3 linked regions of the Homo sapiens genome follow. The protein of the gene in region 3 purifies or fractionates together with the protein of the main gene of each other region. This does not show direct contact. Each region holds a gene or a part of one and is shown on either strand. Other genes may lie near its edges.

Evidence for each region.
Region 1: the proteins of ACSL1 (region 3) and SLC2A12 purify together in Homo sapiens (co-immunoprecipitation; one large-scale study listed by IntAct). This does not show direct contact.
Region 2: the proteins of ACSL1 (region 3) and HAVCR2 purify together in Homo sapiens (co-immunoprecipitation; one large-scale study listed by IntAct). This does not show direct contact.

What each region holds. Positions count from the first base shown.
Region 1 is NC_000006.12:134,028,530-134,032,181, reverse strand, and holds part of SLC2A12 (solute carrier family 2, facilitated glucose transporter member 12), read left to right. Parts: intron 1-2,460; coding exon 2,461-3,652. UniProt on the Homo sapiens protein: Insulin-independent facilitative glucose transporter.
Region 2 is NC_000005.10:157,091,977-157,095,628, reverse strand, and holds part of HAVCR2 (hepatitis A virus cellular receptor 2 precursor), read left to right. Parts: intron 1-169; coding exon 170-323; intron 324-3,652. UniProt on the Homo sapiens protein: Cell surface receptor implicated in modulating innate and adaptive immune responses. Generally accepted to have an inhibiting function.
Region 3 is NC_000004.12:184,823,737-184,827,488, reverse strand, and holds the start of ACSL1 (long-chain-fatty-acid--CoA ligase 1), read left to right. Parts: upstream 1-1,520; 5' UTR 1,521-1,573; intron 1,574-2,252; exon of another isoform or gene 2,253-2,323; intron 2,324-3,752. UniProt on the Homo sapiens protein: Catalyzes the conversion of long-chain fatty acids to their active form acyl-CoAs for both synthesis of cellular lipids, and degradation via beta-oxidation. Preferentially uses palmitoleate, oleate and linoleate.

The sequences.
Region 1 (3,652 bases), on a different chromosome or scaffold from region 3:
TACTAGGATCCTGGAGATGGAAAATACCTTGAGTATTTGTGGTAGAGCTTTAGATCACCTTTATTTGACCTGCTTATTTCACTAGAGCTGAATAGCATTTTTAACTATACCCTCCCCCAACCCCGAAAAGGCAGCCTTAGCTCAGCCTATGAAAACCGTGTGTGTAATCACATTTCTAACATTTGACTTACACCTCAGTTCTGATTCTTCTCCATCTCCTTTGCTGGCACTAGTCTTCTAAATATTGGCATTGCCTAGGTCCCAGTCTTGATCATGCTTTTCCTTTTCCCCTATTTTATCTTCCTAAGTGATCTCACCCATTCCTGTGGCTTTAAATACCAAATGTGTGCTGCTGGCTTCCAAATACATATGTCCAGGCTTGACCTATCTTTAAGCTCCAAATCTGTATACCCAATCCCCTACTTAACATTTTTACCTGAATGTCTTACAGATAAAATAAATAAACCATTTTACTAAGTCCAAAATGAAACTTTTGATTTTTGCCCCTCCTCTTATCACCACTCACAACCAGTTCTATTCCTAATCTTCCCTATGTTGGTATGTTGCGCTACACAGTATATAGTACAATGCCCTCTACATCTCTCAATGGGTGTTGGCCCCATATAGTACTGTATTGAGTATATCAAATATTGTAAAATCACCCACCCACCTGCTCAAGCCACAGAGCCATCCTGGGTTCTGACCCATTTTTTATCCCCCATCTCCAATTCTTGAACAAGTGTAATGTTTTTTTTGTTTGTTGTTTGTTTTTTGTTTTTTGTTTTTTTGTGAGATGGAGTCTTGCTCTGTTGCCCGGGGTGGAGTGCAGTGGCATGATCTCAGCTCACTGCAACCTCTGCCTCCTGGGTTCAAGTGATTCTCCTGCCTCAGCCTCCTGAGTAGCTGGGACTACAAGGCATGAACCATCATGCCCAGCTATTTTTGTACTTTTAATAGTGATGGGGTTTTGCCATGTTGGCCAGGCTGGTCTTGAACACCTGACCTCAGGAGATCCACCCACCTCAGCCTCCCAAAGTGCTGGGATTACAGGCGTGAGCCACCACATCCAGCCCTGAACAAGTGTAGTGGTTTTTAGCTCCAAAATAAGTCTTGAATCTGCCTACTTATCTCCAGTTCCACTCTTAACACCCAAGTCTAAGCTACCATTATCTCTTGTCCAAACCAAGGCAACAAACTCCTCCCTGCTACCAGTCTTGCCAGTCTTGCATTTTGAAGAACTAATCTCTACATAGCAGTGAAGGTGGACTTTATAAATAAGAAACCTATAGCGTCAATGCCCTCTACACCTCTCAGTGGGTGTTGGCTCCATTATACTTGGAACACAATGAAAAGTCATCACTGTGACCGACAAGGCCCTACTTGAAGTGCCCCCTCTGTACTTATCCAAATTCATTTTAAGCCCTTTCCGTCCTACCGCTCCAGGCTCACAATGTGCCCCACATGTTATATGTTGGCCATCTGACAGTTCCTAAAACATAATGAGAACTTTCCTGTCCTAAGGCCTTGGAAATTACTTTCTCCTGGGCCTGAAATACTCTTCCCTCTGTTGCTTTTTTGTTTTGTTTTATTTCTATTTTGACAAGTTGCAAACATATAACAAACATCTGTGTTCCTACCACCAAAAATTAATAGTTACTAACTTTTTGACATTTTTCCTTGGATTTGAACATTAACGAAAGAACAATATAAAGGTAAATTCTCCTTGTTCTGCCTGTGTTCCATCCCCCTTTCTCCTTACTCAGAATGAGTAAGGGATATTGCTGGTTCCTTACACTACATACATTTCTTCCTTCCTTCTGTTTAGCAAAACCTTGACTTTGTTAAGGCATTCACACACTGCCCACTCCCACCTCCACCCTCTGCCCCAACACCCTCATGTGTTCAGCAGAGGCCATTTGCAGCACGACTGTGGCCCAGGAGATAAGAGGGCAAGTTTCCTGGAGGCTGTGTTTCATTTTGACCCAGGCTATCCAGCAAGGAGGCTGTAGCACTTCTAGAGGCTCCTATCCTCTCTCTCCTGCCCTCAAAGATTTGCCTTTAGAGAACTGGAATGGGACCAAAGAGTCAGGCTCTTTGAATTTCTGATCCACTGCCAAGTCATGAACCAAATGATGTTCTTGTTTGTTCAGTCTTCATCATGTGTCATCTGCTTATCTCAACATCACTGTCTGATCTAAACCAAAAACATCAACATCATAAATAGAAGGAAACTGGACTTCCTACATGTCTCCATGCCTATCCTCCCAAAAAAGAAAGAAAAATGATTTCTCCTTCTATATCAAATCATTTTTTGGTTAGTGTATTATTTTATCATAATTGTGTGTTCGTTTAAACCCAGTGCTATGAAAGACTTCTACAAGGTTAAATCTCCGCTCAAATACAAAATGTTTAAAATCTCAACTGAGAACTGACCTCCCTGTCTCTTCTCTCTGCTTGCAGGCTGCGGCATGTTTACCTTCCTGTCATCTGTCACTGCTGCTGTCAGTGGCCTCCTGGTGGGTTATGAACTTGGGATCATCTCTGGGGCTCTTCTTCAGATCAAAACCTTATTAGCCCTGAGCTGCCATGAGCAGGAAATGGTTGTGAGCTCCCTCGTCATTGGAGCCCTCCTTGCCTCACTCACCGGAGGGGTCCTGATAGACAGATATGGAAGAAGGACAGCAATCATCTTGTCATCCTGCCTGCTTGGACTCGGAAGCTTAGTCTTGATCCTCAGTTTATCCTACACGGTTCTTATAGTGGGACGCATTGCCATAGGGGTCTCCATCTCCCTCTCTTCCATTGCCACTTGTGTTTACATCGCAGAGATTGCTCCTCAACACAGAAGAGGCCTTCTTGTGTCACTGAATGAGCTGATGATTGTCATCGGCATTCTTTCTGCCTATATTTCAAATTACGCATTTGCCAATGTTTTCCATGGCTGGAAGTACATGTTTGGTCTTGTGATTCCCTTGGGAGTTTTGCAAGCAATTGCAATGTATTTTCTTCCTCCAAGCCCTCGGTTTCTGGTGATGAAAGGACAAGAGGGAGCTGCTAGCAAGGTTCTTGGAAGGTTAAGAGCACTCTCAGATACAACTGAGGAACTCACTGTGATCAAATCCTCCCTGAAAGATGAATATCAGTACAGTTTTTGGGATCTGTTTCGTTCAAAAGACAACATGCGGACCCGAATAATGATAGGACTAACACTAGTATTTTTTGTACAAATCACTGGCCAACCAAACATATTGTTCTATGCATCAACTGTTTTGAAGTCAGTTGGATTTCAAAGCAATGAGGCAGCTAGCCTCGCCTCCACTGGGGTTGGAGTCGTCAAGGTCATTAGCACCATCCCTGCCACTCTTCTTGTAGACCATGTCGGCAGCAAAACATTCCTCTGCATTGGCTCCTCTGTGATGGCAGCTTCGTTGGTGACCATGGGCATCGTAAATCTCAACATCCACATGAACTTCACCCATATCTGCAGAAGCCACAATTCTATCAACCAGTCCTTGGATGAGTCTGTGATTTATGGACCAGGAAACCTGTCAACCAACAACAATACTCTCAGAGACCACTTCAAAGGGATTTCTTCCCATAGCAGAAGCTCACTCATGCCCCTGAGAAATGATGTGGATAAGAGAGGGGAGAC
Region 2 (3,652 bases), on a different chromosome or scaffold from region 3:
CTTGGGTTGGCTTGAGTGTTGGCTACAAGGTGACAGATCAAAGGTGATTTGAAGGACTCAGCCATCCTGTGATGTTGTAAAAGGGATGGTCCAATTCACAAATCTTGAAGCTGATTACACAAGCGATTTCTAGCTGTTTTCTGCTTAAATCCTGTTTGTGTTTCCATAGCAAATATCCACATTGGCCAATGAGTTACGGGACTCTAGATTGGCCAATGACTTACGGGACTCTGGAGCAACCATCAGAATAGGCATCTACATCGGAGCAGGGATCTGTGCTGGGCTGGCTCTGGCTCTTATCTTCGGCGCTTTAATTTTCAAATGTAAGTGTTTTTGTTTCTCTCTCCCTCTGATAACAAATTCTTCAGTGAGAACCAGTAAAAACCTAGATAGAAATGCAAATTCATGTTTATACCCAAAGATGATTAGACTAAATACCCTTTTGTCCATCCAAATCCTAACAATAATGGCTAATTTTTATTTAATATTTATTGTGTGTCAGGCAGCCACTGCGTTAAATGTTTTACATACATTTTATCATCATTACTGTCTTATGAGATAAGGAATAGTACCATCCCCATTTTACAGTGAAGGGAAGTCAAGCTTAGAGTAAGCTGCCTTCCCGAGGTTTCAACATCAGTACCTGGCAGAACCGGAAATCAAATCCAGGCAGGCTGATTCCAGTAAACTAATTTCTTTAATTCATGAATATGTCTAGGTTTGTTACGAAACACAACAACAAAAAACACTTCCTTCTGTGCACTTTTCTGTTATTGGTTTCTCAGGCATACCTCTCTGGCAGTAGACTGCAAGTCCCTTTAACACTGGGTCGTGACTGGGGTTAGAGAATGTTTTCCTCCATCATGGTACTTAGCACATAGCTTTTTCTAAGTTACTTATCCCTTTTTTTTTTTTAAACTAGCAAACAAACAAAAACAAAAAAACAGGCCCGGCGCAGTGGCTCACGCCTGTAATCCCAGCACTTTGGGAGGCTGAGGGGGGTGGATCATTTGAGGTCAGGAGTTCGAGACCAGCTTGGCCAACATGGTGAGACCCCATCTCTACTAAAAATACAAAATTAGCCGGGTGTGGTGGCGCATGCCTGTAATCCCAGCTACTCAGGAGGCTGAGGCAGAGGAATCACTCAAACCTGGTAGGTGGAGGTTACAGTGAGCTCAGATCATGCCACTGCACTCCAGCCTGGGTGACAGAGTGAGACTGTCTTAAAAAAAAAAGTAATAAAATATAAATAAATAAGCAAATAAATAAATAAATAAATACAATGGCCAGGTGCAGTGGCTCATGCCTGTATTTTCAACACTTTCGGAAGCTGAGGTGAGAGGATCAGTTGAGCCCAGGAGTTTGAGACCAAGATCAGCCTGGGCAGCAAAGCAGGATCCTGCCTCTACAACGTAATAATAATAATAATGAGCTGGGCATGGTGGCACACACCTGTAGTCCCATCTACTCAGGAGGCTGAGGTGGGAGGATCACTTGAGCTCAGGAGGCTGCAGTGAGCGGTGATTGCATCATTGCACTCCACCCTGGGCAACAGAATAAGACAGTCTCCAAAAAAAAAAAAAAAAAGAAGTGTGTTGAAGTTGATGAATTTTGATGGAGAATTACAGTAGGAAGCCATCATCACAATCAAGATCTAAATACTTCCAGTACCCCCAAAACCTCGCACACTTTTGTTTTTTTGGAGATGGACGCTGGAGTGCAGTGGCACGATCTCAGCTCACTGTAACCTCTGCCTCCCGGGTTCAAGTGTTTCTCCTGACTCAGCTTCCAGAGTAGCTGGGACTACAGGCATGTACCACCACGCCTGGCTAATTTTTATATTTTTAGTAGAGACAGGGTTTCACCATGTTGGGCAAGATGTTCTTGATCTCCTGACCTTGTGATCCGTCCACCTCGACCTCCCAATGTTTTGGGATTACAGGCGTGAGCCACTGTGCCTGGCCACTCACACACTTTTATAATTGTGTCTATTTTATTTTCTTTTAGGGCAGAAACCAAGTCCTTATGCCCCAGAGCGTAATATGACATAGCAGCCTTTCTTACTAATACACAAACAGGGACTGTGTGTGTAGAGTGAGCAATCACCTCAGATTAGCTCAAGACTAAAGGGTGTTCCTAAGATATATGGGACTTCTAGGGCTAAAACTGGAACAGTCCAAGAAAAACATGAGTTGGTCCCCCCACTAACTGTGGACTGAAGCTGCCAAGTGCTTTACGTGCATTAAATTCTCGTAACTACCCTATGAGATAGGTACTAATATGTTTCTAATGGAGAATCAGCATGCTAAAAGGTTAGGTCACTTGCCTGCATTTACACAGTTAATTGATAGATACTGGATTTGAAACCAGGACTGTCCTGCTCCTCATCTTTATGGTTTCTGCGATTATGGTTAAATGGATTATTCAGAAAAAGAAACTACCCCACCCACACTTACCTGGGTTTATTCAGAGATAGCCATGGAATTTTTGAATTGATCACATGAATATATATATATGTATATATATGTATACACATATATATATATATTTATTATTATTGGGACAGAGTCTTACTCTGTCACCTGGGAGCTGGACTACAGTGGTGTGATCTTGGCTCACTTCAACCTCTGCCTCCTGGGTTCAAGCAATTCTTGTGCCTCAGCCTCCCAAGTAGCTGAGATTACAGGCATATGCCACCACACCTGGCTAGTTTTTTTTTTTTTTTTTTTTTTTTTTTTTTTTTTTTTTTTGGTAGAGACAGGGTTTTGCCATGTTGCCCAGAAAATTGGTCTCAATCTCCTGAGCTCAGGTGATCCTCCTACTTCAGCCTCCCAAAGTGCTGGGATTACAGGCGTGATGAATATATACATATTTAAAAATAGAGGCTGAGCACGGTGGCTTACGCCTGTAATCCTAGCACTTTGGGAGGCCGAGGTGAGTGGATAACCTGAGGCTGGGAGTTTGAGACCAGCCTGACCAACGTGGAGAAACCTCATCTCTACTAAAAATACAAAATTAGCCGGGCATGGGGGCACATGCCTATAATTCCAGCTACTCGGGAAGCTGAGGTGGGAGAATCACTTGAGCCCAGGAGGCGGAGGTTGCAGTGAGCTGAGATCGTGCCATTGCACTCCAGCCTGGGCAACAAGAGTGAAACTCCATCTCAAAAAATAAATAAAATAAAATAAAATAAAAATAGAAATGAGATCTTGCTATGTTGCTCAAGCTGGTCTCAAACTCCTGGGCTTAAATAATCCTCCCACCTCAGCCTCCCAAAATGTTGGGATTATAGGCATGAGTCATTGCACTTAGCCTCACTTGAGTATTTCCAAAACAGACTAGGGATTGTTAAGGAGCACTGATAACACTCACTACTTTTTTGACTTCTGCCATGGCTCAAAGTAAAACTTTGAGCTTTACTATTATATATATTAGAGACCACTTTATATATATATGTGTGTGTGTATATATATATATATATATATATATAATATGACCATAATTTATACATATTAGCACTTATTCTAGTTTGTATAAAGAGTGATGGGATCTAGAGGAAATCTGATGCTTTGTACACACACATATATGCCACTCCAAAAAAACATGGCTACTGAGAAGTACAGATAAGAAAGGCCTGTTTCATTTCCAATCT
Region 3 (3,752 bases):
ATAGACCACAGAACTTGGGAGGTGCCTGCAGAGGTTCTGGGGCTGAGGGACCGGTTGGAGAAGAGGAAAAAGGAGAGGCAAAGATGACAAAATCACGGATGGGGAGGCGAGATCTGGACAGAAAAACCAGGGATTAGCCAAGCGGGAACCAGTGAAAACGAACGTGGAGTCCATTTTTTCTAGATCTGGAAGATGGAGATCTAAAAGGACTGAGCTGCTAGAGAGGTTGCTGGTGTGTGCGTTGTCCTCACCCCACTGCACCACTGCGCCCAGCACACTGTGGGAGACACCCAGGGAAAGTCCTTCAGTTATTTGTGGGAGTGAACTGCAGTGTGGCTGAGGCCTGGAGCGAACCACGGTCAGTTTCCCCTGCCTGCAGCCCAGGCATAGCCCTGCGTTGGTTGTGCCCACACTCTGGGGGCAGCCTGAGTGCCAAGTGTGGTACTGCTCTCACTAGCATTTAACCTCTGTGCCCCAGCTTCCTCTTCTGTGAAAGGACAGTAATGACAGTACCTACCTCACTGGGTTATGAAGATTAAATAGAATAATGTGTACGCAGTGTTTGTAGCAATGCCTGGCATCAAGCACTGGGTAAACAGTATCTATTATTATCAAAGGCCTTTACGACAACAATCATTCTTCAAACGGCCCTCCAGCGAACGCTGGGCGCAAACTCCACGGTAACGGGGACCAATGTTGTTAGAGGTTGAGGTTCCTGGTAGGTCCCAGGTGCTAAAAGGAAGAGCAGCCTTTGGGATGTGAGCCCGAAAACCATCGTGTTGGCTTCTGAAGCCCCAAGATGGGCATGGCAGGGACGCGGAAGCCCTCAGAACCGCGGAAGCCCTCAGAACCGCACAGCAGGTGGCCGCCGTGGTGCAGCGCGCAGTCGGCCCTCAGCTCCCCTGCACCGGCGCGAGCTGCGGGCGCTGCCCACGTCAGGCTCTGCAGACACCAGACAGAAAAGGTCTTCCGGCCAGGGAGCGTGGGGGAAACCCTGTGGGGCCGCGCCCGTCAGTGTCAAGGAAAAACGGAGAGGAAGGCCCTTGCCTCCAGGGCCCTCGCAGCAGAATTCTGCCCGGCCTGCCAGGAGGCCAGCGGGGCACGGGCTGAGGGTGCAGGATCCGGAGGGCGCCGCCCGCCCCTCGGGCATCGCGGGGCCCAGGGTCCGCGGGGCCTCTGAGCTGAGGCGGTCCAATGTACCCTTTGTCCTTCCTCAGATTCATTATGAAATCCGAGGCAGTCTGGGCGACTCCAGCGGCGTTCGCCCGCCGCAGCCTCTCGACCGCCGGCCACCCGCCAGCCACGCGCGCCCAGACAGGAGGGCGGCCGGGCGCTCGGCGGGGCGGGGCCTGCCGGGGGCGGGGCCTGCGGGCGGGGCGGGGCCGCGGGAGGGCGGGGCCGGCGCGGCGAGCGCACCAGCAGCATCCTGGCTCAGCCGCGGCGGTGGCGGGGGCGCAACCAGCGGGCCGAGGCGGCGGCGCCAGCGGCGCCTTAAATAGCATCCAGAGCCGGCGCGGGGCAGGGAGTGGGCTGCAGTGACAGCCGGCGGCGGAGCGGCCGGTCCACGGAGGAGGTGAGTGCGCCCGCCGTGCGGAGCCGCGCCTGCTCCCGCGGCGGTGCCCGGGCCCCGGCCGAGGCGCCGGCTGACGTTGCCCTTCAGGGCCGAGCCCGGAGCAGCGGCCGCCGCGGAGGCGCGTGAGCCACCCCAGGCTCGTGGGGCCGCGCCGCCTTTCCGGCCTCCTGCCCGCGGCCCCGCTTCCCTCGGCAGCCGGAGGCCTCCGGGGTGCCCGTGCTGCCGCAGCTTCCTGTGTCTGAGTCGCGGGCGGCGCGGGCGCGGGGCTGGTGCGCGGCCGGGGATGCGCGCGGGACCGACCCTTGTGTGTGCGGCGGCGGGGACCGGCCCGGCGAAGCAGCCGGAGGCCGCGCTTCGGCTGGGAGGAGGTGGCCCAGCTGGGCCGCTGACGTTGCCCTCGTCCGCGGCCCCCGCCTGCCCAGAGGCCGGGCTCGCGGGCGTTCGGACCGCGCGTGGGGCGAGACTGCACTCGCGCCCGCTGAGATGCCGGCCCCACGCAGCGCGGCGGCACGAGGCCCACAGGCAGCTCAGAGGCCGCTGCCAGAGGCAGACATTCTCTCGGTGACTCCAGAGGAGTGCCCGTGGCCCTTGCACTTGGCCGTGGAGTCATTGATCTAAGGAGTGCTGGCATTTTTTGAAATTGAGAAGCAAAGATGATGTCTGTCACCTGGCAGCGTAGACGGAGAGTGGCGGTAGATGACTTGAATGGACACGTGGATTCGAGTCTGGGGACAGGCGTTCCCCCAGTCGGTGCGTTGTGAGAGTGTGGAAACCCCTTCCCCACTCAGTCCAATTTCAAGGTTATGGAGCATAATTAAGAGTGACCATTCTAAAAGCGTTCTCTAGTGCCCTGGCTAAGACTTTTAAGCTTCTTGGTGCAGGAGTGTCTAAAGTCCCGCGACTCTCACTGCCCTGTCTTTTATTTTCTTGACCTTTGATTAGCGTTGAGAGAAACTGGTTAAATCTTGCAGTTTCTGCCACCCATTTCACAACTTAACCTGTGATTGTCCCAAAGAAAACAATTATTGGCTTCTTGCTAGCAAAAAAATCAAAGGCTTCCGGTTGATTGTTTCTTTCTTTTTTTTCTTTTTTCAAGTGGACGTGGAAGGTTAGGCTGGCTAAAACTTAAAGTTTGAGTTGTAGGTCTGTGCTGGGTAGGCTTGAGAAGATGGAGCTTTTTAAGGAACCATTGCTCGCCATCAGATTGGAGCCAGACAGTGCAGTGTGATATAGTGGAAAAGGACCAGGTCTTGGGAGACTTACTTTCTTGTTCTGACTCAACTCGGAAAACACCTCCCTAGTCTGAGGCCCCCCTCCTTATATTTGTGAACAAACTGCATTAGACTAAAATCTTTCACGAGTCCAAATTCTGCGACTAGAAAAATAAACTTGTTAGCCGCACACCTTATACCTCTCCCCTTTAAAACAGACATATTAAAGACTTCTGTTTTCTGAATTTACTGTAAACAGAATACTTAAAAAAAAATTACCCAGACAGGCGTGGTGGCTCACTGTAATCCCAGCACTTTGGGAGACCGAGGCGGGCAGATCATTTGAGGTCAGGAGTTCGAGACCAGCCTGACCAACATGGAGAAACCCTATCTCTACTAAAAATACAAATAATTAGCCAGGCGTGGTGGCATGCATCTCTAGTCCCAGCTACTCGAGAGGCTGAGCCAGGAGAATCGCTTGAACTCAGGAGGCAGAAGTTGTGATGAGCTGAGATCCCGCCACTGCACTCCAGACTGGGCAACAGAGCAGGACTCTGTAAAAAACAAAACAAAACAAAAAATTACCCTTCCCCACAATTATAAGCATTTTGGCATATTTCCTTCCTGTCTCTGTTGTTCCTATTTTGGCAGTATTTTTATTGTTATCGCAGGCAGCCTGACTGAAAAGAAATCTGGGCTTCTAAGTTTTTGGTATTTAGGAGGTAGATACAAGTGACCCATGCATGTAGGGTTAGGTATCTATTTATACCATGCAGGTAGAGTTTTCATAGCCACCTCTACTTTTGGGTGAAGTTTAGGCTAACTGAAAGTGTACCAGCATGCATGGTGTATGCAGAAAAATGAACGTAATTCAGATTATGTGATAGTTTTCTCTTGTTGCCATTATATATAACCCAGGGCTTACCACAAACTGAAATTTCTTATGCATTGACATTTAGCATTTGATG